Regions from separate parts of the Homo sapiens genome. Here all the other regions are linked to region 2. The links come from fine-mapping of genetic effects on gene expression. A gene starts in region 2. Each other region holds a variant in brackets. All regions are shown on one strand. Distances are between the middles of the regions.

Region 1 (8,344 bases), 140 kb before region 2:
GTGATACCAAGCTTACTTCAGTGGTCCTTGGTGTTGGCATGGGTTGGTGGGCAAGTCATTGGCTGTCAGTTGTCTGTAGAATTTAGTCACTAAGTCAACAAATATGACTACAATGATTGTGGAGTTAGTTATCCGGTGCCCTAGTTTTATTAGTGTCAGTGTATACATCACCATTTGTGGTTTCTCTACTCCCTAATGATGTCTTAGAAAATTATTTATTTATTGGATATTCCTTATATCACTCAATTTGAATGTGCATATATTTATACTGGCTGGGTCCCTATATAGTAGGAGAGACTATATCTGTCATTAGGTGACAGAGTAAATAATGATCTTTCATAAAAACATCCATGTGAGAGCTGCCTTAGTCCCTTCAGGCTGCTATAATGAAGTACCACAGATTGAGGGGCTTATAAACAATAGAAATGTATTACTCACAGTCCTGGAGGGTGGAAGAGATCGGAGTGCCAGCACAGCAGAATTTGGTGAGGGTCTTCTTCTGGATTGCAGACTGCTCTCTTCTGTTCATGTCCTCACATGGTAGAAAAAGAGTATGAGAATTCTCTGGGGTGCTTCTTATAAGGGTACTAATCCCATTCATGAGGGTTCCATGCTCATGGCCTAATCACCTCCCAAAGGCTCCCCTTGCTAATACTATCACATTGGGAGTTAAGATTTCATATGAGTTGTGGAGGAACACAAACATGCAGTCCATTGCAAGAGCAATATATTTTCAAATATGTTTCTTTAAAGGTATTCTTATCTAGCTGCTGTAAAAATAGAAACTCGAAAATGCTCTCTGTCCAAAGTAATAATGTCTATGCTTAAGTCTCATAATAATTCTCATCACTTTTTGATATTGATTTGATCTTTGCATCTTAATAAGACCCTTATTAGCTTTTCAAATATATATGAAAGGTGTATATCATGTCATACTATTTCAATTTTTAATATTTAATTTTTCACTGTTTGAATGAAAACTTAATAGTATCAAATGGCAAACAAAATATTTTTAAATAGTTTCCTTTAAAAAGCCATCATCTTCTCTGTTTAGGATGGAACATTCAAACTCTTCTTCATTGTTATTGCATAGTTTCGGAGATAACTCTTAATTGTATTAATAGCACTGAACAGCACTCAGTGATTTGTGGAGCTTTCTACCAAGATACTTGGTGACCAAATGTGGCCAAAGAACAATATGATGAATTTCTAAAGAACTTAGTGCTACTTTAAAAAAGTTGACTATACATGCACATTGCTAAATGTTGATGACATTCCAAGGTTTTCTAATGTAAAGGCATTAGAAAAAGATTTTTTTCTCTGAAGCAATTATAGTGGTTTCAAGCATCTAATTTTTGATGACTCTTTTGTATTCATTTCCAGTAATTTTGAAAATAGCATTATCTCAGTAACTTCTTCATTTCACTGGAAAGAATCAACATATGTGTATAGTAAGACTGTTATTCCACAGAACATGTTCATCCTATTGAAATGAAAACTCAGTTGATTGCAACTCATTTTCAGTTGCTTTTGGCAACTTTTACCAAATCATTTATTTTTCTTGAAATTTCACCATTGTTCAATGGCATAGAAAAGATAATTTATTGAAATTTTTTCATTATTGCACTAATCTCTTTTGAAGCTGGTATGACAAGTTTTTATACAAAATCATATGATTTAACACATTTTGTAATCACTTGAATTATTTTTCAGAGACTTCTCACATCCATTGCACCTGATCACTAAAAACCAATAGTGTCTTTCCAACCTTTGTGACATGCAGAAACACTCGTACATGTTTCCAAAATGCCCCCCACTAGGAGGAAGCATCATTCCCTTGAAAAGTCACTGGGCTACAGTAACATTAAGCCAACATTTTCAAGGTCATTAAGAAAGATTAATTTGGAGTTATTGAAATAAATTATTCCATGAGGTTGCAAATTTATTCCAATAGAAAAGATTTTAAGGTATCTTGCATTCTTATAATCTCACTCCTAATTAGTGAACACAGCACCTTCACAAACCGCTCTGAGAAAAAAATCAGTTTCTAACTAATTTTTCTGAGGACTAAGGGCCCAGTAACTTCAAAGGCAGTCCATCCACTCTTAATGAATCATACCTTTAGAAAGTCCTTTCATAGAGCGAACATGTGCCTGCCTGCCTGCAGCGCCCAGTGAAGAACGAGGGAACTGAATTAATGTGGAGTGCTTCCTAGCACTATTTGTTTTCCTGTCTGGAACATGGCCTGTTCTGTTGACCCGATTTGGGTTATGATTCATGTTATAGAGAGTCAGACAAATAAGTGTTTCTATCCAAACAGCTTCTTTCAGATCTGAGCTCCTGTCTCCTTTTTCTTTAGGTGAAGTTCAAATCTGATGTCTTGTCCCTCCCTCACATGTGAAACTGCGGAACTTTTCTCCAACTGAATAGGTATTACATTTTCCAGGGCAAGAGTCGACAGCGGGGGCCTGTATTTCAAGCTGCTCTTTCTTCTTTCACCTTCTAAAGGTCATATTCTCCAAGCCTCCCTCTTCCCCAGCCCTGACTCCTCCACATGTAGGACTTCACTAGCCACCAGAGCACTGATGACTCTTGAGTCAATATCCCCAGCTCTGGCCCCTCTTTTTTGCTCAATATCTGTTTATCTTCTGTTCACCTGAGTAACCGAGGTAATATATGTTCAAAACCTAGCTCTCTTCTACCTTGCCGAATTATCCCACCACTCGTTCCATCACCCAAAACAAAAACCTGCAAATTGTGAGTCATCTTGAACTCACAATCCATATTCATTTAATTGGTAAATGCTATCAGGAATCTCTCATAGTTGTTCAGTGTTCTTCAGCATCAATCTCAGTGCCTTAATAATAATGGTTCTCAGCAAATGAGAGCTGTGGTTTGCCAGGAACTGTGCTAGACTTCTCACATACATTCTTATTTAGTCTTCTTAAAACACTGAAGGAAAGTAATATCATTCTAATGCTACCTAGGAATAAACTAAGGCTCAATTAAGTAAAATAATTCTCCCAAGGTCATATAGCTGTTATCCGATGAAACCAGGATTGAAACTTACGTCACACTTTCACCAAATCCCATATTTTCAACTTTCTCATCAATTTCTTTCATGAGAATTCTTGAAAGTATTCTCTTGGTTTTCCTGCTTCCACGTGTTTTTCTTCTAATCTCACTTCTACATGGCTGCCAAAGTAATCTTTCTCAAATACAAATTCAATTGTGTGACTCCTATCCTTACAAATCCTTCCGTGTCTCTGCCTTTCTTGTATTTCAAGATAAAACCCAGACTCCTGGGCTTAGCCCACAAGATAATTCATGAGGTGGCCTCTGTCTACCTCTCTAGCTTCATTGTCTGCCATTTCATCAAGGACAGTCACACTTCCCTCTAGTCACAGAAGCAACTTTTAGTTCTCCAAATACAACATGCTGTTTCATAATTTAATACCTTCTCATGTGCTTT[C/T]TGGTCTACCTGGGTGCACTCAACCCACATTCTCTGCCAGGCCAATGTCTTCAAGGCTTGCTCATGTTACCTTCTTTTTTTTTTTTTTTTTTTTTTTGAGACGGAGTCTCGCTCTGTCGCCCAGGCTGGAGTGCAGTGGCGGGATCTCGGCTCACTGCAAGCTCCGCCTCCCGGGTTCACGCCATTCTCCTGCCTCAGCCTCCCAAGTAGCTGGGACTACAGGCGCCCGCCACTACGCCCGGCTAATTTTTTTTTTTGTATTTTTAGTAGAGACGGGGTTTCACCGTTTTTTAGCCGGGATGGTCTCGATCTCCTGACCTCGTGATCCGCCCGCCTCGGCCTCCCGAAGTGCTGGGATTACAGGCGTGAGCCACCGCGCCCGGCCCATGTTACCTTCTTTAAGAAGTCTTCCTTGATAATTATGTCTTTTATTTAGACAATTTCATTTTCATCTGTGATGCCTTGTGCATGCTTCCATTTTAGGGACTTCTTTTTTTCACGTGTACTTTCCCAAAAGCAAACCCCTGAGACAAGGATTCAAGTATAAGTAGTTTATTTGGGATGTGCGTGGAACACTGGCAGGGAGAGGGGCAGTGACACAAGGAAGAGAAATCAGACACAAAAGGGTGTATGATTAACCACAGTGGGACAGTTGATCTTAAATCCTACCAGAAAACTTTTAGGAATTGGCATGAAACACGCAACTCAGAATTAAACTACCCAAGGTGGGAGGGAGCTGAAATATTTATATACCAGCACTTGTGTATAAATTAAGAGTGTCTGGAAGGTGCTGCTTCTCAGATTTGAGGGGATTACTGTTCTTTGGGCAGAGCAGACTTGTGTGGGTCAGAGTAAAGCAATCAGGCCCAGAGATGCAGATTATGCCTAGGGGTTAGGGTTAGGCAGCTGTAAGTCACCTGAAGCATGTCCAAAGGGTATGGACTACATAGTGACTGGTCTACATGGTAGACTTTACTATGGTCCTTTGTTTACTTGTCTGCATTCCCAACTAGACTGTAATGAGACTATAATGAGAGCAAGTACCTTATAATGAGAGCAAGTACTTTCCCCGTAGCTAGGACGGTTGCTGCCACAGGGTAGGTTACTCCCTAAAAGATGGTGGGATAAAAGACTGAATAATATGAGGCCTGTCAGAAGCGCAAGTAGGTACAGGAGTCCCAGGTGCAGAGGGGTAGTAGACTGAAGTCTTTCCCTGGAGGTTACGTTGGGGAACATCTTCAACATTTGAAGGTGTTTCTTGGTGGCTTAGCTATTGGATTTCCTCCTTAGTTTTGGAGACTTAATAAAATCATGTCCTAAAATAGTTGCAACATGAATTCACTTATTCATGTATCCACAAATATTTATTAGCTGTTACCATGTACCAGGTACAGTACAAGGATCTAGCATGAACTTTTTCAAAATTTTGTGTCCACTGAGCAGAGTTCTTCTTGTTTGTGATATTTGTGAAATATGTGAAATTCTATGTGTAAGTATTTGAGTGTGTGTTTGCATTTTTATGCATGTCATGTTCTTTCGCTATTATGACTCATCTACTGAAGACGTTAAATGGAAATTTTGCCTCACAATAGCAATACATCACAAGTGTTTTGCAAAACCCTTTCATGAGTACAACTACATTAGACTGTTGCAACGATCCTGTGAGATAGAAAGAACAGACAATATGTCTGTACTGTATACGTGAGGAGTGAAGTTCAGGGACTGTAAATCACTTGCTCATGGTTATTCATATAGTAATTAGCAACCTTGGCTCTAAATTTTCAGAGTCCAAATTTAGTTCCACTATGCTTTATTAGTTTGAGCTTTGTACAGAAGGCTTTTATTACTCACTTAACATTAACTCATAAATAGGTACATATATGACTAAGAAATGAACACTTTTATTGTCTAATTATTACTGGTAATAATCTCCAACCACTTAAAGATTATAATTTAGCTTATATCCTGAAGTCCATCCTCTGATGCAAGTTTGTACAGCAGTGGCACAGAACAGTGTCCACATCTATTTGCATGTTCAGGAAACGCTCTTTATTGTCTATCTCCTGCCTACCTTTCTGACTTATTTCCTATTATTTTTTCCTAAAACACATTAGACTTTAAACACATTAGACAGTTTCCCAAACACAGGATACAATTTCATTTCATTCTGCTTTAGCTCATCTTCTTTCCTCAGGCTGGAATGATTTTGGCCTAATTAATGAATCCAAGAATAAACAAACTCTAAAGTCCCCTCTCTTCAGCAGCTTTCCCTGACTGGTCTAGGCAGGATGAATTGCTTGCTCCCTCATCTGTATTCCCACAATGCATTTTGTTGGGAATGTGTCACAACTTTCATCGCATTGTCTTATAGTCATTCATGTGTTTGTCTTCCTAGTTACACACAATTTCTTGAGGGCAAACACCATGTCCTATTCATCTTTGCATTCTTAGTGTTTTGCTTTGTCCCTAGCATGGCATGGTGCTTCAATAATGTCTGTCAAATAAACTGATTATAAAAGGCATTGAGTATAAACTGCACTCATTATAAGTGTTAATGTACTTAAACTTGCCTTGGTATCTCTTACTTAATCTTGTTTAATGACATTGCTTCTGCCATGTATTTTGCCCTGGAAAACTGTGGTTTTGAGTCTCTATCTTTACAAATAGTGATTCTTAATTTATTATTGAGTTTTATTTGTAGTTAGATGATTAAAATTTAGATCATAAATTCATTTCAATTTTTTACTTTTATGACTGTGCTTAAAATGTATATCTTAAAGAATTTATTAGCTCACTGATATTTTTGAGAATCAACTCCATTGTCTTTAGGGAGAGCTTTCTTAACATCAATGTTTGATATTTTATAGATGTTTAGCATAATGATTTTTAATTCTTCTTCATATATCCCTACCATCTGACTGAATATAGAGTGGAAGGCTGTTTTCCTATGATTTTAGATTGTGAATTTTCTGAAAATAACTCCAATCATTACTTTCTAAAACATTATTTTTTTGTTTCATGGTTCAAATTTTATTAATGTTCTTTATATCAGTTCTCTTTTCATATTAAATTGAACAAATTGAAGTTGCTCTGAATGCCACAATAGTGAAATATAATTATCTCATAAAGTGCTTTGATTCTGTAGGCTAGAAACAGTGGACAGAAAGATAATCAGAGATAAACTGAACTATTATACCATTATTATACTTGTGAAACAGTGAATCAAGCTTTGTTGGGTTCAACCAGAAAAACACAAATCACCATTACACATTTAAACCAAGAGAATGGAATAAAGCATTAGTTACCCAGGTGTGTAACAAAGAAGTTATAAAAGATATATTGAAGCAACTCAGAAATTAGCAAAAGCAGGAGCTGCTATCACTGCTTGGCTGAAGAAGGATGTTTTGGAGGCCCAAGGACAGGGTTTGGCAGCCAGCACTGGAACCACTGCAGTCTAACTACTGGGAGCTGGAGCTACACAGTGGACACAGACTAAGTCAGAGGGGGAAGGCAACAAGTACCCTGGTTTCTTCTTTCCTTCCAACCTACAGTCTCCTGACAGTGCCTCCTAGTGCACAAACCCAGTTGGATGCCTGTAAAATAGGGCCTGAAGGGGTGACCTCTATGACGCAGAGTAGAAGAGAAGGGAGAGGAATGAATATGAGATCACATAGGCCACTACTGGCACCCATATTATTTATTATTTAGTGCCCGAATCTACACGCTCCTAACATCTTATGGGTCATTTAAGCTTGGGATATTCGGAAGACCTGTGATTGGCTGAGGTATTGGATTAGCTGGTTGCTATGTCTAGACAAAACATTATTAGACCATACTGCTTACAATGTTATACTGCTATTATGTACTTTAGCCCCATTTTCTAGTGGCCATTATGAGGTTGTAAATAATGCATCTTAAAAACAGTTTCATTGTGATATAATTCACATACTGTAAAATTCACTCTTTTTTTGTTTTTTGTTTTTTTTTTGAGTCAGAGTTTTACTCTTGTTGCCCAGGCTGGAGTCCAGTGGCGTGATCTCAGCTCACTGCAACCTCCACCTCCCGGGTTCAAGGAATTCTTCGGCCTCATCCTCCCCAGTAGCTGGAATTACAGGCATGTGCCACCACACCTGGCTAATTTTGTATTTTTAGTAAAGATGGGGTTTCACTATGTTGGCCAGGCTGGTCTCGAACTCCTGACCTCAGGTGATCCGCCTACCTCAGCCTCCCAAAGTGCTGGGATTACAGGTGTGAGCCACCACACCCAGCCAAAATTCACTCATTTAAAGTGCACAATTCATGTTTTGCACATTCACACATATGTGATATTATCACCACAGTCAATGTTTAGAATATTTTTATTACCTCATAAAGAAACCCCTTACTCTTTAGTTACTGCCCCTATGCTCCCCCATTGGCCCCACCTCCTAGTCCTAAGAAATATCTAATCTACTTTCTGTTGCTTTAGATTTCCCTGTTCTGGACTTTCATATGGATAAAATCATATAACATATAGTTTTTTCTAACTCTTTCACTTAGTGTAAGGTTTTTGAGGTTCATTCATGTTGTAGCATGTCTCAACATTTCATTCCTTTTTATGACTATACTACATTTTGTTATCAGTTTGTCAGTTGATAGAGGTTATTTCCATCTTTGGCTAGTATGAATAATGTTGCTATAAACATGTATAAACGTTTCTCTGTGGATATATGTTTTCATTTCTGTTGGGTATATTACCTAAGATACAACTGGCAGGTCATGTGGTAAGTCTGTGTTTAACTGTTTGAGAAACTGACTGTTTGCCTAAGTGTCTGTAACATTTCACATTCCATTAGTGGTGTGTGAGGGTTCTGATTTCACTTCATTTTCACT
Region 2 (8,294 bases):
TACTCAAACTGGAGTTTGCAGGGCACTTTCATTCATAGAGAATCAGCAGCCCCTCTGAAGCTTCTGAAGTGTTTCTGTTTTCACCCGGTTGATTCTACATGTGATAGGAGTCAGGGCTCAGGGTTTCCATGCTTTAAAATATCCAGATGAAATCACGACTAAACTTTTATCTGTACTTCTGGCCAACCAACCCCAAACTGCATTTTCCAGAGAGACTCCTATGTTAGTGGTTTTCCATCAGCAACAGCAACTCACAAACTGCAGCTTTGTGTAACTTTTGAGCTTCTTGAGTTATTAAGCATTTAATGTTTTCTCAACCTTTTGCTTCTAGTGGCAATTTCTTTTCCTTTCCCTTTGGGCTCCTTGCCTGAGACTTCCTAGAGCAGCGGTTCCCAACCCCCAGGCTATGGACTGCTATCCATCTGTGGCCTATTAGGATCTGGGCCACACAGCAGGAGGTGAGCAGTGGGCAAGCCAGCGAAGCTTCACCTGTATTTAGTATTTACAGCTTTTTCCCATCACTTGCGTTACCGCCTGAGCTTTGCCTCCTGTGAGATCAGCGGAGGCATGAGATTCTCCTAGGAGCATGAACCCTATTGTGAACTGTGCATGTGAGCAATCTAGGTTGTGTGCTCCTTGTAAGAATCTAATGCCTGATGATCTGTCACTGTCTCCCATCACCCCCAGATGGGACCATCTAGTTGCAGGAAAACAAGCTCAGGGATCCTATCAAGTCTACATTATGGTAAGTTGTATAATTATTTCATTATATATAAAACAATGTAATTATAATAGAAATAAAGTGCACAATAAATTTAATGTACTTAAATAGTCTCCAAACCATCCATCCCACCCCACAGGTCCGTGGAAAAATTGTCTTCCACGAAACTAGTCCCTGGTGCCAAAAAAGTTGGGGACCACTGTTCTAGAGGACAACCATTTTTCTTTACTCATTTTTCTCCTATCAGCTTTTCAAAACACTGTGTTATATATATATTATATGTATAATATATATACACATTATATATATTACACACATGTATATATGTAAAATATCTGTTTTTGTAAAATCAAACTAATAATCAAACAGTGCAGATATATATAATGAGGCAAAGGTCCTCTCTCATTAACATCTCTTCCTCTGCCCACAGAGACACATAACTCACCTTCATCCTCACATCTCAGAATTAATGACTGAGTGTTTTTTTATTTCAATAGCATGAACATACTACATAAACATACATAACCTATAATTGCATAGCAATTTCCAACTCTGTGAGAACTATCAGTCCTGTGCTCACCCAACAATTTTTTAACTTTAAAAACTATTGTTTCTTTGTTCACTCAGCTTTCTTCATGACTCCAGATCTACTCAATACTTCCATAGTTGATTCAAAAATTATATTATTTAATCGTATTTTGTCTTTTTAAAAATTGGTTTCACCATGTTTTTAATGTAAAGTGATAAAACTGCATAGATAACTATATAATGTGGGAAGTTAGAGATTGAGGCGTAATTGTATACCAGCTTACTGATGAAAAAACTGAGGCAGAGAGAGATTTAATGACCTCTCTGAAATCATGTAACTTCAGTTAGGGAAGTGGCCGAAATAAAAATCCAGGCTTTGAGACTTCTGATCTAATGATTCCACTTCATCATGTCATAAGCTCTTTCAGAATCTTCTAACATTTGTACACCACCTTATTCCTTCTGGGTACTCAATAAATGACTGGGCTTGTTGTTCTAGTACTCACAATAATTCAAAAAAAAAAAAAAAAACAGAGGAAAACATGTCTTACCACATGATAAATTGATGTCAGAATAAGTTTACTGTAGTAATTTTTTCAGTGTGAAGGTTGTTACCTGTGAATGAAAAACAGTGTAACAACAGCAAAATAAATTCTGTCTCAGTTTTTGTTTTTTTTCTTTTTATGTGAAAGGTTAACACTTCAACTGACACTACAAATGTTTATTAATTTGGCTTTAACTCACAGAATTTGAATTGGGTAGAAAACCTTTGAATATTACTTTTCCCATGAATGTTTTCCCCATACTTGGTGTTGCCAAAGAGATTACCTTGGCACTGTTTAACTAAACGTTTATTGATTAATTCATTCAAGCATCAAAGCTAATGAATACTTACAGATAGCAGTTGCCACAAACAAATTTTAGGAAGAATATCTTATTGCTAGGTATAGTAACTAGAAAATTATAAGAATTTTAAATCATGGCTCCACATGTTGAAAGATCAAAAAGGAAGGCTGTTAAATCAGAAAGAACAGACTTCAGAATGATGCAGGTTGTTTGTTTCCCCAGGGAAAATGTTCTTTCCAGGGCCAAGAGCATTTTCTTATTTTTTCTATATTCCTTCCATCCATCCATCCATCCATCCGTCCATCCATCCATCCATCCACCCACCCACCCACTCACCCACCCAAGCATGCATGCATGCACCCTACACACCTGTGTCAAATACGAAGCTGGATCCTCAGGACACAGTGGTTTCTGCTCTCTCTGAGTTTCAGTTCTAAATTTAAAGGCAAACTCAGAAGTTTCTAAATGTGTGAGCTCTTTTCCCTTCTATCAAATCAATTGCATTTTCCCACACTTCCAACATTCATTTTGTTGTCCACCTGTTCATGGGAAGCAAAGGCACCTTTGCAGACAGATTTCAGTCTGGCTTTCTTTCATCCAATTGCAATGGGCCTCTGATCTTTTCATGGCTGGCTGCTTGCCATGCATGTCTCAACTTAACGAGCACCTCCTTGGAGGGGCCTCTTTTAACCATCTCATCTGAAGTAGTCATTCACCAGCTGCCATCACATCAACCTGTTTTATTTTCATTGTAGCATTTGTCCTTGATATTTTTTCATTTGCTTATTTAATTGGTCCCCCTTTCTGCCACGAAAGCTCTATGAGGGCAGACAGGTGCCTCATCTGCTTCTTTGCCTCCGAATTCTGAAATGATTTGAAACGCAGTTGGCATTCATTAAATATTTGTTGACTTAATGAATGGATTCTTAATTGGCTACTACTGCTTAAAGGTCTACAAATACTGATTCATCCTTGTTGACAAGTTTTTACTTCTCACACGTATGCATATTAATCAGAATTTAAAACTAAGTCTTAAAAATAAAACAGCTTGGAAACGTGGGAAACATCTGGCAGAGAAATCATTCTTGCATTCGCAGTGACGGAAGGAAAATTTTTTCTCTGAAGTAAGCAGGTTGTTGGCCTCTTTATCGGTATCATTGGAAAATGCTTGCCTATTTTTGTTGGTTTTCTCAGGAACTGGGAACATCTGGCGTTTGGAACATAGAACGTTGTTCATTTTTAAAGCAGAGTCATAATAACTTTATGAGTTGAGGGTAAGAGAGAAAATGACCAAAGAAAATGAAGGCAGTCTGGAGAAAGAAGAGGCTCGTGTCCCTTTTAAGGAACAGGTTTCCTTGGCTCTTTGAGAGTGGTTCTTAAAGGAAGCTTCCTACGAAGTCCGCAGTTGGTATCCTTACTAAATGAGCCAACTAAATAGTGGAGGGGAAAAAAAGAGTGCGTGCCTGGCTCCTCCTAGTTCAGGCTCATACCGCCTCCTGAAAGTTGTGGCTACAGGACAGGCTTTGGCTGCTTTCTAGAACGTCGCTCGGATCCCTTTAAAGGTGGGGATCTTGACGGAGAGTGCGGGGGATGAAGGCGGGAGCTGAGGGCTGGAGAGTCTCTGTTGACATAGTAACTCTTCAGCTCCGTCTCCCTTGCTCTCCGCTCTTACGCTTCGCTACCACCAGCGGCCCCGCCTGTGCCCTCTCTGCCCGGGCGCCCCAGACGCATCCTCGCGGGGTCTCCTCGGCCTGACCTGCTCAGGTCAAGATCCTCTTTGCACCCCCTTAAGTGGTGACTTTTCCCCGGGCCAGTGGGCGAGCCACTTGCGGCGGGCGTCTGCACCCCCTGCTTCACCGTCGTCCCCTGGGCACCGGTCTGCCCAGGTCCAGTTCGGCCGCTGACGCGAACCCTCCGCACCGGGTCCCCGCTGGAACTGCCCACTCGGCTCCCCCGGGAGCGGGGCCCAGGCCAGTCGGGCGTTCCCGCCATGAGCCAGAGCCCGGCGTTCGGGCCCCGGAGGGGCAGTTCTCCCCGGGGCGCTGCCGGAGCCGCTGCGCGGCGCAACGAGAGCCAGGACTATCTGCTCATGGACTCGGAGCTGGGAGAAGACGGCTGCCCGCAAGCCCCGCTGCCTTGCTACGGCTACTACCCCTGCTTGTGAGTGCCGGCGACGCGGGGCGGATCGGGCGCGGGCTGCGCGGAGGGAGGTTGTGCGCTCGCAGGAGTGGCCGAGTCCGTCCGCGCGCGTCCTGAACCCGCGTGTGTACCTCCTAGGACGGTGCTGGGAGGTCCGCGAGAGCCAGGGCTGGGACCTGAGTGAGTGGAGGGGCGCGCGGGGAGTGGGGGAGGCGGGGTTGTCTAGGTTTGCTCCTCGTAGGTACGCATGGATATGTTTGCCCACGAGAGTGAGACCGCATAGTAACACCACCATTGCAGGTGATTAGATGGGTGGTCGATTTCTCCAGACCCCTTCATCCTGCGCTCTACAAGAGACAGGATCGCTACGTAACAGGCGGGATCTGAACAGGGGGCTGATTCAGATGTGCGCCCGGGTGACTCTTAGCCTATGTGGGGGAGAGATGACTAGAACTCCAAGGGTTGGAGCTGCCTGGGTGCTGGGTGCGCCCGGCGGTCTCCACGCTTGGCTTAGCGTTTCGGGCTGAGCGCTGAGGTCCTTGGACCGTGGGACAGCCAAAGTTAGACCAGGACCTCTCCCCGGTCCTGGGGCCTTGGAGTGAAGACAGAAATAGAACCAATAGGACTCTCCACCGGCGGCGCGAACCTTTTCACCCGGGGCGTCTGGGGAGACGAGCCTGTTAGGGGCTGGGAGACTCACGGGCTATAGAAGTGAGGGCGTCGGGTCGTTTGTATTGGGCTGTGGGTAACTGCAAGCTTTTGTTTATGAATCTAGGGTATTTTTTTTTTTAGCTGGGTGGGTGGCGGGAGGGGAGGTAGGGAGTAAGCAGAGTGGACTCCAGAAGAAAAGACTCCGCTTCCCCGACACCGCTGTGACCACATGTGCAGCGGGCAGATAGCATTTCTGTCCCATTGCCCCTTTGGGTGATTGGGTAGTCAAGTTTCCTGACTTGTCACATCCACCCGCAAGCGGTTTCCCGAGGTTCTCAGCTCTATAAACAGCTTTAGTTGGAGGGAGGATTCCACCCCATAGGCGCCTGGCAGACCCTCCTGATAGATGGGTGCTGTGTCAGGGCTGCCCAGCCTCAAGCCCTGCTGCGGTGCCCTTTCGAAGTAAGAGGTGAGCCGCAGTAAAGGGAGCATCTAACTTTTCTCAAAGATAAAGGAGAATAGTTAGAACTGGTTTCATTCATCTGTGTGCTGTGCAAGTTAAGAGCATTTACAATTATGTATATGTTTTTCTTTTTAAAAGTTCAAGACATAATTCCCATACCACGTAATTCCCCCATTTAACTTGTACAATGCACTATTTTTAATATATCCATAAAGTTGTACAGCCACCACTAATATCTAATTCCAGGACAATTTCATCATCCCTCAAAGAAATCTTACACTTGATGTGTTAAATTAGAAGATATTTTTATGTCTCATAGTACAGACTTTTCCAACTTTAATGGCTAGCATGCAAATCATGTGGAAATCTTGTTAGAATGCAGATTTTGAGAAGGCAGGTCTTAGGTACAGCCCAAGATTCTCCATTTCTGACATCCCTCAGATGATGACAAGGTTGCTAGTCCGTGGACCACCCTCTGAATAGCAAGGTGATATATGACAAGAAAAAACAAGAATAGAAAGAAAAATAAATAAATCTTGGATATTCTGAAATGCTGCTATTTTAAAATGTACTTTGAAGGTGTAAGTTTAAGACATAGATGGAATTTTTATTGGTTAAACTTGAGATCTCCGATGTCTGAGGGTTATAGGTTTGGCAACATTACCTCCTGGCTAAACTAGGTGACTAAAAATTTATACGGCTTTTTAAAAATTAGACTGTTCCATGAACAAAACCTTTTTTCATTCTGTAATCCATATAATCACTTGTCGCTGTGTCTGTCAAAAAATGATTTGATTAAAAACCTTGTGGTTATATATCAGTAGTGAGAGAGACTAAATAAAGTAATAATTCCAAGTTGTCCTGAAAACTCTTCCCAGTGCTTTCTTCAAATGTGGCTTACTGCCTAATTTGTCTAATTATTGTTATTACATTTTTTAGCTACAAGTTCTCACTATGTTACCCAGGCTGTCCTCAACATGCAGTATTTAGTGAATATTCCCTTAGTTCAAGAATCCTGGACTATTCTTAATAAATAGAACTGAGCAGCAGAGTGATGAACAGAAATATTTTAATGTGCTTCAATTCATAACATCCACCCTCTGCGTGATGTCAGAGGTACTATAATACATGTAAGAGTGAGCCATGCTCTAGAATTTGGGTTTGGTTTTATATGAATCTATTATTTCCAAAAGGTTCTATAGTTACATTTCATCCACTGTTTTCTCTGACAAGATTTTAAGTTTTTCTAGTTGAATAATCAACTAACAGAAAAATTTTAACCAAGAAACAAAAGTACTTCACACCTATGATGTATGAGAAAGAGCTAAAGAAAATTACTCCCTCTGGTAGAGTAGAAATCAACTCTTCCATATGCTTTTGACTTGTGATTTATACAATTTCATAGTGGGAGGTGTATCATTTCTGAAAGTGGCAATCACTAGTACATTTTAGATATGAATATTGCCATTTCTCAAATCATTGAGATTTTCCCTTATAAGATCCCAAGTCTTTGTAAGTTGTCATTTCTGTGGAATAAATTCTATGACTCTTGCCAAAAATTTCTGTTTCATAGTTTTCTTATTTAGAAAAATTTTTTACATATATTTATGGGGCTTCAGTAGTAATGGGGCTTCAGTAGTAATGGGGCTTCAGTTTTTATTTATATTTATGGGGCTTCAGTTTTCAGTAGTAAAACTGAAAATTATGGTAAATTATCTTATTTGTGAGCAATTATGTGCAATAAGGCCTTAATAGTTAAATAAGGCCTTAATAGTTAAAATAGTAATAAATTGAAATGGTGTTCAGAAGAAAATGGCTCAGATTTTCTCTTTATTCAACTTTCAATAGCAAATCAATTAATATTCTCTATTGTGATCAATTTGTAATGGTGATTAGCAAGAAAGGCCCATGTCCTGCCAAGGTCCCAGGAGGCATTTCAGATTTCCTTTATTTAGAACTTTAAAGGTATGTTTACAGTTCATCACTGCTGAACTTGGGGAAGAATCCCAGACATTTAAAAAAGTTAAGCATTTCTAAAATCTCAGGATCTGAAAACACAGTCCAACTAAACTTTCTGCTTGGGAAGGAGTAATTGATTGATTATGAATAATGAAACAGTAAACTGTAAACTAAAGCACTGGCAATTCAGCTGACTGAGACAATCTGAAAAATTTATGGTTACAGACACCTGGCAGTACTGGATAAAAGATTTTAAATGATTTTAAAACATCTCCCAATTTTGTGAAAAATAAAAGGGTAATCTACCATGTGCTAAGAACAAAGACATTAAAAGCGAGTATAGATTGTGAAGTGATGATGTGGTTGCCCTGTGAGTTATGCGTCCCAGTGACGAAGAAGCCTGGAATCTGATGTCCATATGAGACAGAAAGAAGGTAAACTCTTGGTGCCAGATGAGGCAGAGAGCTGGAACTGAGATACCCCTGTGCCCTGCATAAAGCCATTAAATAAAAATGTAGGCTAGAAATATATGCCCACCAGCATACAGTGAGAACAGGAAACTTTAACAGTAAGAAGAAAAGAACACTCCCCTTGAGAATATCGTTTTTGGGGTTTTTGTTTTTATACCCTACCTAACTAGCCTAGAAATAGTCAACATGGAAAATACTCCTGAGGTTCCTATAAGAGTAAAACACAAAATCATTATGAAAGACTAGTATCAAGCATCTAGATTGCCTAGGCTTTTCAAGAAGAAAGCAAGTCCTGCTAAAGATATGCTTGCTATAATGAATAACAAAACACACAAGGAAACAATCGACCAAGAGTGAGAGTCAGTGGACCATGGACTCAATCGACCATGAGTGAGTAGATATAAGACATGCAGTAGTTAGTGGATTTTTTAAAAAGTTGAGATAATACAACCACATGAAAAAGAATCTTTAAAAGTACATATAAATGTTGACAATATAAAAGAATAAATCAAACCTT
Region 3 (8,344 bases), 31 kb after region 2:
TTTATTTCTTCTAGGTTATCCAATTTGTTGGCATATAATTGTTTCTAGTAATCTCTCATGAGCTTTTGTATTTCTGTGGTATCAGTTTTAATGTCTCCTTTTTATTTCTGATTTTATTTGAATTATCTCTATTTTTTTTTCTTAGTGAGCCCAACTAAAGGTTTGTTGATTTTTTCTTTTCAAAAAACATACTCTTCATTTGTTGATCTTTTGGATTGTTTCCCTAGTCTCTATTTCATTTATTTCTGCTCTAATGTTTATTATTTGCTCCCTTCTGCTAACTATGGGCTTAGTTTATTTTTTCTGTTTCATTGAGGTATAATATTAGGTTGTTAATTTGAGATCTTTCTTCTTTTTTGAAATAGGTGTTTATTGCTATAAGCTTTGCTCTTAGAACTGCTTTTGCTGCATTCTGTAAGTTTTGGTATATTGTGTTTCCACTTTCATTTGCCTCAAGACATTTAAAAAATCCCCCTTTTAATCTTCCATTCACCCATTGGTTGCTCAGGAGCATGCTGTTCAATATCCGTGTATTGGCAAATTTTTCCAAAGTCCCCCTGTTACTGATTTCTGTAATTTCAGTCTTTTGAAATTTGCTGAGGTGTATTTCGTGCCCTAACAAGTGATCTGTCTTGAAGAATGTTTGTGTGCACTGTTCTTCAAGTTTTGTAAATAAATTTTATTTATATAAAATTCTCCACATTTTCTGTTCCTGACTACAGAAAAAAAATGACTAGTTCTCATAGAAATCTGGTACAGTCCACCATAAACACAAATATTCTTTGACATCTGTTTTACATTAAAAGTTTGCATTCTCTTACATAATGTTCCCATGTTCATCTAAAAATAAAGTTGTTTTTCTACCATCCTTTCTTCCAAAAAGATGAAATATGTTTATCCATAACTTCATATGTCCTTAGGTCACACTGCATGCTCAGGGGTATTCATACCAGGATGCGGAAAAGCAGATGACTCACATCGATAACTATGAGCAGAATATATCAGCTCAACCACTTACGAAGCTCAGGTCATGAGCAAATACATTGAGTACCCAGGACCCTTCCTAGACAGGAAAAGGAAGCCTTTTGGTGGTCGTTGTTAAATAATAGAAGTCCATTGCAGAATGGTGAAAGAGTAGGATGCCATGTGGCAAAGTTGAAAAGAAAGGTACAGCCTTTGGAACGGAAGAAATAATGTGGAGTCCTCGTATGTTCCATGACCCGTTGACACCAAGCCTAAAACATCCTGCCTTTGAATAATAGGTGAAGCCTGATTTCATCAAAAAGAGATTTAGTTGTATAATCATCTAGTGAATGTACACTTCACAAGAGGATGAGCTCCCAAAGCCTGAAACTCTCCTTCTCATGGCAGTGTCTCTTAGCCTACCACAGAGTGAGGGCTCAGTGACTATCAGACCGCAGTGTCATAGCACTGAAATTACCTAGGTAAGAAGAAAGAGCAAACACTAATGGAACCCAGAACAACTTTAACCCATGGAGTGGCATCTTTGTGGCCTGTTTTAAGACTCAGGCATAGAGAGCAAGACAAACTTAGAGAGGACAGAGAGGGAAGGGAGTCAAGCGGGTGATGTGCCTACACCCAGTGGGAGGACAAGCTAGGGCAAGGAAATAGGGCTGGGATTGATTAAGGGTGTTATTCAGCTTTGAAAGAAGATCAGCTGCTATCTTTCTTAGGCTGGAGTTTACAATAACTTTCATTAACTTTTAGTTAATAAAGAATTTTGTTGATTGGTTATTTTTCATCTTTGTTTTTTAAAATTTTTTCCTCACTTTTTGGGTGATGCAGGGAAAGAAATATAGTGAGGCTTATAACTTGATTCTTCCCATTGCCTGGCACTGGGCAACCACCACCTGAAACTGGCCAGGGCACTGAAGGATACTGTAGAGGTCAGTGTCTCACACTGAAACCAGGAAAACCCACCATATTCCCAATTTATATATATGTTTTATACATACATTCATGCAAACATGGGAAACATTAAGGATTCCAACATAATCAGGCCACTGTTTATTCTCTTAACAGGTTAATTTTTTTTTTTTACTATTGCTCTACTTTGAAATAAGCTTAGATGCCCAGTTAACATACCAAGCATAACATAAATGTAAACAAAAGTTTATATGCAAATCTAAAACTTTCTTTTGTTGTTCCAGCTTCTCTACTACTGGCCTCTTAATAAAAAGCAGAAGTGAAAAGGAACAATTTTCATTTTCAGTTCTTCCTATTGAAGAGACACAGTATAGAATATACTGTCTCACACATCCATTTCACTGAATATACTGGTCTGTCTGCCTGGAGCACTGATTTCTCCTTCCTCTTTATTTATAGAACCATTTTGCATCTGACCACGTGTTCTTTAAAAGTCACCGGCCAGTGAATTCAGCTTCAACTGATGCAGAGTCCAGTGTGTCTATTTCTGTATTTCCATGTGCATTGCACATACCTCTAGCATAGCATTTAAAGCATGTGTGAAATGTGTTCACATAAACATTTTCCCCACAGAACTATGAACACTTACAACGGCATCTAGTATAGAGCAGGGACTTAATTTTTTCTTTCAATTGTCTCATTTTCCTTTACATATACCCTATTACTGAGCTTGGTATCTGGGACACGATAAATCTTAAGAATCTTTTTGTGGAGAGAATGATGTATGAGTGCACTTACTCTTCTAAAAGTAGCTATGGGAGCCAAAAGAGATGTGAATAAAATAGAGGAGCTTATCCATACATGTGTGCTAGAATATATTATAATTCTTAGTGAATGTGATCCAGTGTATGCTAAGTTCTCAGTAGGTGAGCTGGTTGAGAGGGAGGAAAGCTGGAAACTATTAGAAACACAACCTGGGTGGATTCTAAAGTACTGATCAGCAATCTAGAGTATAATGTCCAAAGGCACGGGACTAACATTACTTGCTTTAAACTAACATTGGCATCCAAGAGGGGCTGATGCGATAGGTGAGGAACGCAATAGGAGTTAATAGGCCGGGAGATATTTGCATTTAGCCTATGGTTTCATCTCAATTATTCTTTTGTTTATCCAGTTTGAAATAGAATACCAGCTGTGATAAAGGTTCAGTGAGAGGGTTACAAAGCCTAGTCAGGAGGAAACAAAAGAAAAATTAAAAAAAAATAAGGCTGGTATCAGAGTAGGCAGAGATGGGATAGGTTACAGGAAAGAGTTAGCTTAGAACAGCATTTGGTTTCTGCAGTCAACTTCAGTGTTTCAATGGTAAACTTCACTGTCTAGAATTATTACATTTATCAGAGCTGGCTCAGGTTCACGATCTTGAATCAGATGAAGAAAGAGGGGACTGGCACTGATTCTTTGATTACATCACCTATCTTACTTCCCATTAATACTCTACCTCACCCTATCTTACTTCCCATTAATACTCTACTTCC[T/C]GAATTTCTGCAAACCCAGACTTTAAGGAAGCTTCTCTTTTCACATTAGCCAAATACCACATATTTCTCAGCCGTTATCTGATAAAAGAATAAACATTTATTGGTTATGATATTTTCACTTAATTTCTGCCACTTGAAACAGAAAAACCACACTGGATAAAGTTTGACAGTGTTTGTCACTATCATTTATATTTATGCCATATCATTTACTCATGTTATTCCAAACACTAACCAGAACCCAGAATTAGACCTGATCCTGAGCGGCTATAAGATGTATATTTAGTACCAATTGAAAAATAATAATGTAGGAATTATAGAGGAACTATGCAGAGTTTGAGACATTTATCATCTTAATTAGATGGAGAATTTTTTTTAATGGATAATCTAATAGCTAAGACTAAACTTCTTGTAGGATTTGTTGTTGGATCATAAACCAGTGTTCACTTTTTGATTTGGGCAACAAATAAACAAACCTAAACAGAAGAAAGATGTCTGAAGAGCAAAACTTGAACTTTCTGACTCACCTCCTTAGTTTGCCTTGTGTCAGAATGGATTGACTAAAGCTTTATTATTTGGTACAAATACTTTCTGGACCATTTTGTTTCTTGACATATAAACTGCTGAGACAGAAGGTGATGAAAATATTTAGAGCCAAGTAATTTTGGATGATTAGAAAAGCCAGCCTCATGTGGCTTTGTTATTATGTTTTCAAATATAGGCCACTGTGTGTTTCAAACATGGGTTACGTTGATTTCTCCTCTTCGTCATCTTTCTTGTTTCTTACAGCTAGAGGTGACCTGCTGCCCAGTGGAAAATGTGCAGTGAATGGCCCTGGCTTCACTTAACAAAAGAAAACTAAGTTTCTAAGTTCTGAAAATAACTTATAAAGGGTGCATCAAGTATATGATCTTATTGGTGTAAAGAACTGTGAAGGGTCTGAGATTTTTACTTGCAAACTTACAAGATGGCCCGCCATAGTTTCATGGATGCCGATAAAAGACACAAACCTCCTGGGCCAAAGTTGGACAACCTTTAATCATAGCAATAACAGGAGCTAGTGTATTCTTATTTTTGTATCAGTTCCCCAAGCCCCAGTTTCTACAAGGAGACACAAAAGGATGGGATGGTACCTGCACTAACAGTGAGTTGTGTTACAGAAAGGATCTCTGAGCTTAGAGAACCTAAATCTTTTGTAATGAGCAATAACCATGACAGCCCTGAGGCTCTGGTGGGAGACATTCTATCTTCCAATGCTGTTTGTTTGCTTTAGAGATGTCCTTGAAAATATAGTTTGGATCAAAGGGCAAACATTGCTTTGCACACAATATGTGTAGAAACTCTAGACCCATCTGTAAATAATTGAATTTTAGGAAAGTTTTTGAATCATTAATTGGCAGAGATAATTTGTTGGTGGGGGAGGGGGGAGTTGATTTAAACCTTGTTTAGAACTACAGAAAAAATGTGCAGCTTTATGACTGTATGAGAGAGTAATGAAAAGCAATTTCATGAAGCACTGGTGAATCAAGTTTTTTTTTCTAAAGAATGTTATTTCTTAGTAGAATAATTTGTATTAAGTTATTTTTTAAAAAGAGAAATTATGCCAACAAAGAAAATACTTTAAGTGGTCAAATCTGATGTATTTTTTGGCCTTCTTTTTGACAAACAGTTTATAAAAATATTTTGTTACTAAGATTGTCACTCCAGATTGGCCATCAATACTGTTTATTCTTTAATACTTTATGGTTGCAGTTAATAACTGCCAGTTCATAATATTCATTTAGTCCTTTGAATTCATTTAATAGTTTCACTGACTGTATTTAATGATTAAATGTTAAATACTCATTTCCAGGAAGTTTGAAATTGAACTATTTATTTATAGAAGGATGTTGACTTGAAGATATGCTCTTATATGGAGAAACTATTTTCTGATTCCTAAAGTACAGAAGCATTTTCTCTAAGCAAACTAGACTATGGATACTGACCACTTTGTCCTATGTACGTACGTATTTGTAGTCATATAGTTGCTCTTAATGAAAAGATTATTTTAATTTTGGTCATTGTAGCACCAAAATTAAATATTTCATTATTCAATCACATGGTTCAATTTACTTTAAATACCATGATCTAATAAACTATGGGAATCATCTTTTATATCACAATGATATTAGGTGAGCTCAATGAATGTATAGTTAAGCACATATATTATTTTTAAAATAAAAATGAAATATATAAATATGCAATATTTCAAAGTACTACATTTGATAAGAACACATTTTTCCAGTCCAGTGAGGTTATACCACATACTCTCCATGTTGTGTGTATTTTTTACTTAATCTGTTTGTGTTTTATAATGTATCAGACTACAAAGGCCTTAGGAAACATTTATATATAAAGAATAATATTGTTATTCAATTGCCCTTTATCCTTATTTATTAGTGCTTATGACAAATGTTACAGATTTTGCTGTTGAAATTATTTTTTCTTTAGTTCTGTTGCTTAAAAACACTACTGTGTGTTTTAAGGTTATGAAAATTATTATTATCAGTTGAACAAATATTTGCATAATAGCGTTAGCAGAAATAAAATTAAAATTAAGAAAAAAGTATCAATAAATCTGCACTCTAACAAATCAAATTATATTTCTCTCAGTTATGTTCTTATACCTATCCATATATATGCATGATTTTACATCCATAGCTTATATCCTTGCGTCTTTTTTAATTTAATGTAACATCATACTTGTGTTTTCATATGTGTAATATGTATTCTTCATAATAATTATGATAAAAGGCAGATAAAATTCTATCAAGGAACTTTTTGTTGAGGAATTAATTACATGATGATTTTGTAATTGTTGGGCATATGTAAGTTGATTCTAAATTTTTATTCTTATAATGTTGCAAAAAACATCTTAAAAAAATTTAGATTCTTTTTAGACTAAATTTTATCAGTAATAATTTCCAAAGCACAAAAACTGAATAGAATTATTTTCATGAGTCTTAGACTATAATTTCCAAAAAGACTGTTCCACTTTCTGTGTCATCAGAAAAAAGGGAGGTTATAATTTGGTATCAGTCTTGTATACTTTTGATATCATTCTTTATACTGCTAACTCAGTATGGAAAAAACAGTACCTCATATTGTTTTTAATTTGCACTTATTTGTCTATTCATTGACTAAATATTTTTCTAAGTATTGCTTTATTAATTATATTTTAAAAATTGTATTATATTTACATGAAATTTACCTATTTATCTATTAGGGCCATAATAGTTCTTTCTCAATTTTATTTTATTTTATTTATTTTTTGACATTTTTTCATTTGTGTTTTTATATTTTTATTATTTATTTTGAAATATTCCATTTTGCATACAAGTTTTCTTTTTTATCCCTTTTTTCTCTGTCAGTTTTTCTCTCAATTTTAAACATAACTCCTCTTTTCTCCCTTATTCAATATGTTTTTCTCTCTGCCACTTTTTATTGAAATGATTTTATCATAAACATTTAAATATTTCTTTTTATTATAGCCTCTTGTAACTCATCAAAGTTGGTAACTACCAGTATAAGATCTGATAAATGTTGACTTGCCTTTTTGCTATTTTCTTGGATTTGTTTTTATTTAGCTAGCTAAATAAAACATGTATAAATGTTTTATTCACATGTTTGTTTTGCTTTATGGCGTAATATGAGGTGTGGATATAAATAATTATTTTTCATATAGCTGACCATCCTCACATTGTTTCAATAACTATTTTTTAAATTTTATAATATATCCCTTTTTAAAATCAACCTAGTGAATAAGTTAGATGTATTTCTAGGTTTTGAGTTCTGTTCAACTTACAAAAGTGTTTGATTTTGTACTTCACTTGCTCTTAAATCACTTCAGGTGATTAAAGCAGGCATTTCTAATATTCAGCTCCTCCCATTAGTAGGCCTTTGTTCTGATCTGTACATCTCACAATCTTTTTAAAAATTGGATTGTCTTTAATTTTAAAAAGTGATATTTGAACATGAAACATCAAAAAAAAACAGAAGGATACAAAGGGAAAATGTCAGTCTCTCTGCATGAACCCTACCCTTGGTACTACCCCCAGAGTTACCCACTGACATTTCCTTGCACACTCTTTCAGAACTTGTCAATGCATATGTAACCGTATATATTTTTTGACAAAGCAAAATTATATGATATCTTCATACTCTTCTACACCATGATTTTTTTCACTCAATAGTATATGTATTTTGTAAAATCTTGCATTTTAGCAAATATAGATTTATTGCATTCTTTCTGAGAGCTGCACTATATTTCATTGTGTGGAAATGTTCTTAAAAGTTTTAAATAATCATTTCATCTCAGTTTTCTTTTTTATAAATAAGCATGATTGTTTACGGATGCAGCATCTCTTGAAGTGAGAATGGTACGAGCTTTGCTATCACAGAGAACTGGTGTCAATTAAAAAATAGAATTGGATTCTTACTTTGGTTAAATGGCTTGACACCTCTTTGGATAAGCTACTTAACCTCTTTCAACCTCACTTTCCTCATCTGTGAGAGACAGAGAGAGAGAGAGAGATATATATATATATATATATCAGTATATATAATTATGTATTATATATTTATATATTAAATATATTTTATATAATTATATATTATACATAATATATTTATATATTATAATTATAAGATATAATTATATAATTATATATTGTATTTCAATTATATATAATTATATATTATATTGTATTTCAATTATATATAATTATATATATAAATTATATATATATGTATATATATATGATCTAGTTCTTAGGCTGTTGGGAAGATTAAATGAGATGATAAATTTTAAATGCCTGGCATACAGTTCAAGAAGTGAAAAGAGAGAATATTTTAGAAAACCTTATTTGTTGAAGTTCTCTTAGATT

Direction of the effects. Positions count from the first base shown, and alleles are read on the strand shown. Sizes are in standard deviations (SD) of each study's normalised expression. Not every link is listed here.
In carriers of allele T in region 1, the expression in unexposed skin of the gene that starts at base 3,582 in region 2 tends to be lower than with C alone (small effect, 0.38 SD a copy in GTEx).

The links. PIP is the estimated chance that this variant, and not a neighbour inherited with it, causes the effect.
Region 1: its variant is fine-mapped to the expression of TRPC6 in unexposed skin (GTEx, PIP above 0.99). The same link has a PIP of 0.9 or more in sun-exposed skin.
Region 3: its variant is fine-mapped to the expression of TRPC6 in blood mononuclear cells (TOPMed, PIP 0.97).

Annotation. Positions count from the first base shown.
Region 1 is chr11:101,715,321-101,723,664 of GRCh38, reverse strand. No RefSeq gene overlaps it. Among named protein-coding and RNA genes, the nearest start is that of TRPC6, 140 kb to the right of the region's middle. The variant C/T (reference allele first, on the strand shown) is at 3,473.
Region 2 is chr11:101,579,295-101,587,588 of GRCh38, reverse strand. TRPC6 (transient receptor potential cation channel subfamily C member 6) reads left to right here and starts at 3,582. Exons shown (of 13, transcript NM_004621.6): 1 at 3,582-4,255. The coding sequence starts at 4,086.
Region 3 is chr11:101,548,125-101,556,468 of GRCh38, reverse strand. The region is part of intron 1 of TRPC6 (transient receptor potential cation channel subfamily C member 6); the gene reads left to right. Among named protein-coding and RNA genes, the nearest start is that of TRPC6, 32 kb to the left of the region's middle. The variant T/C (reference allele first, on the strand shown) is at 3,423.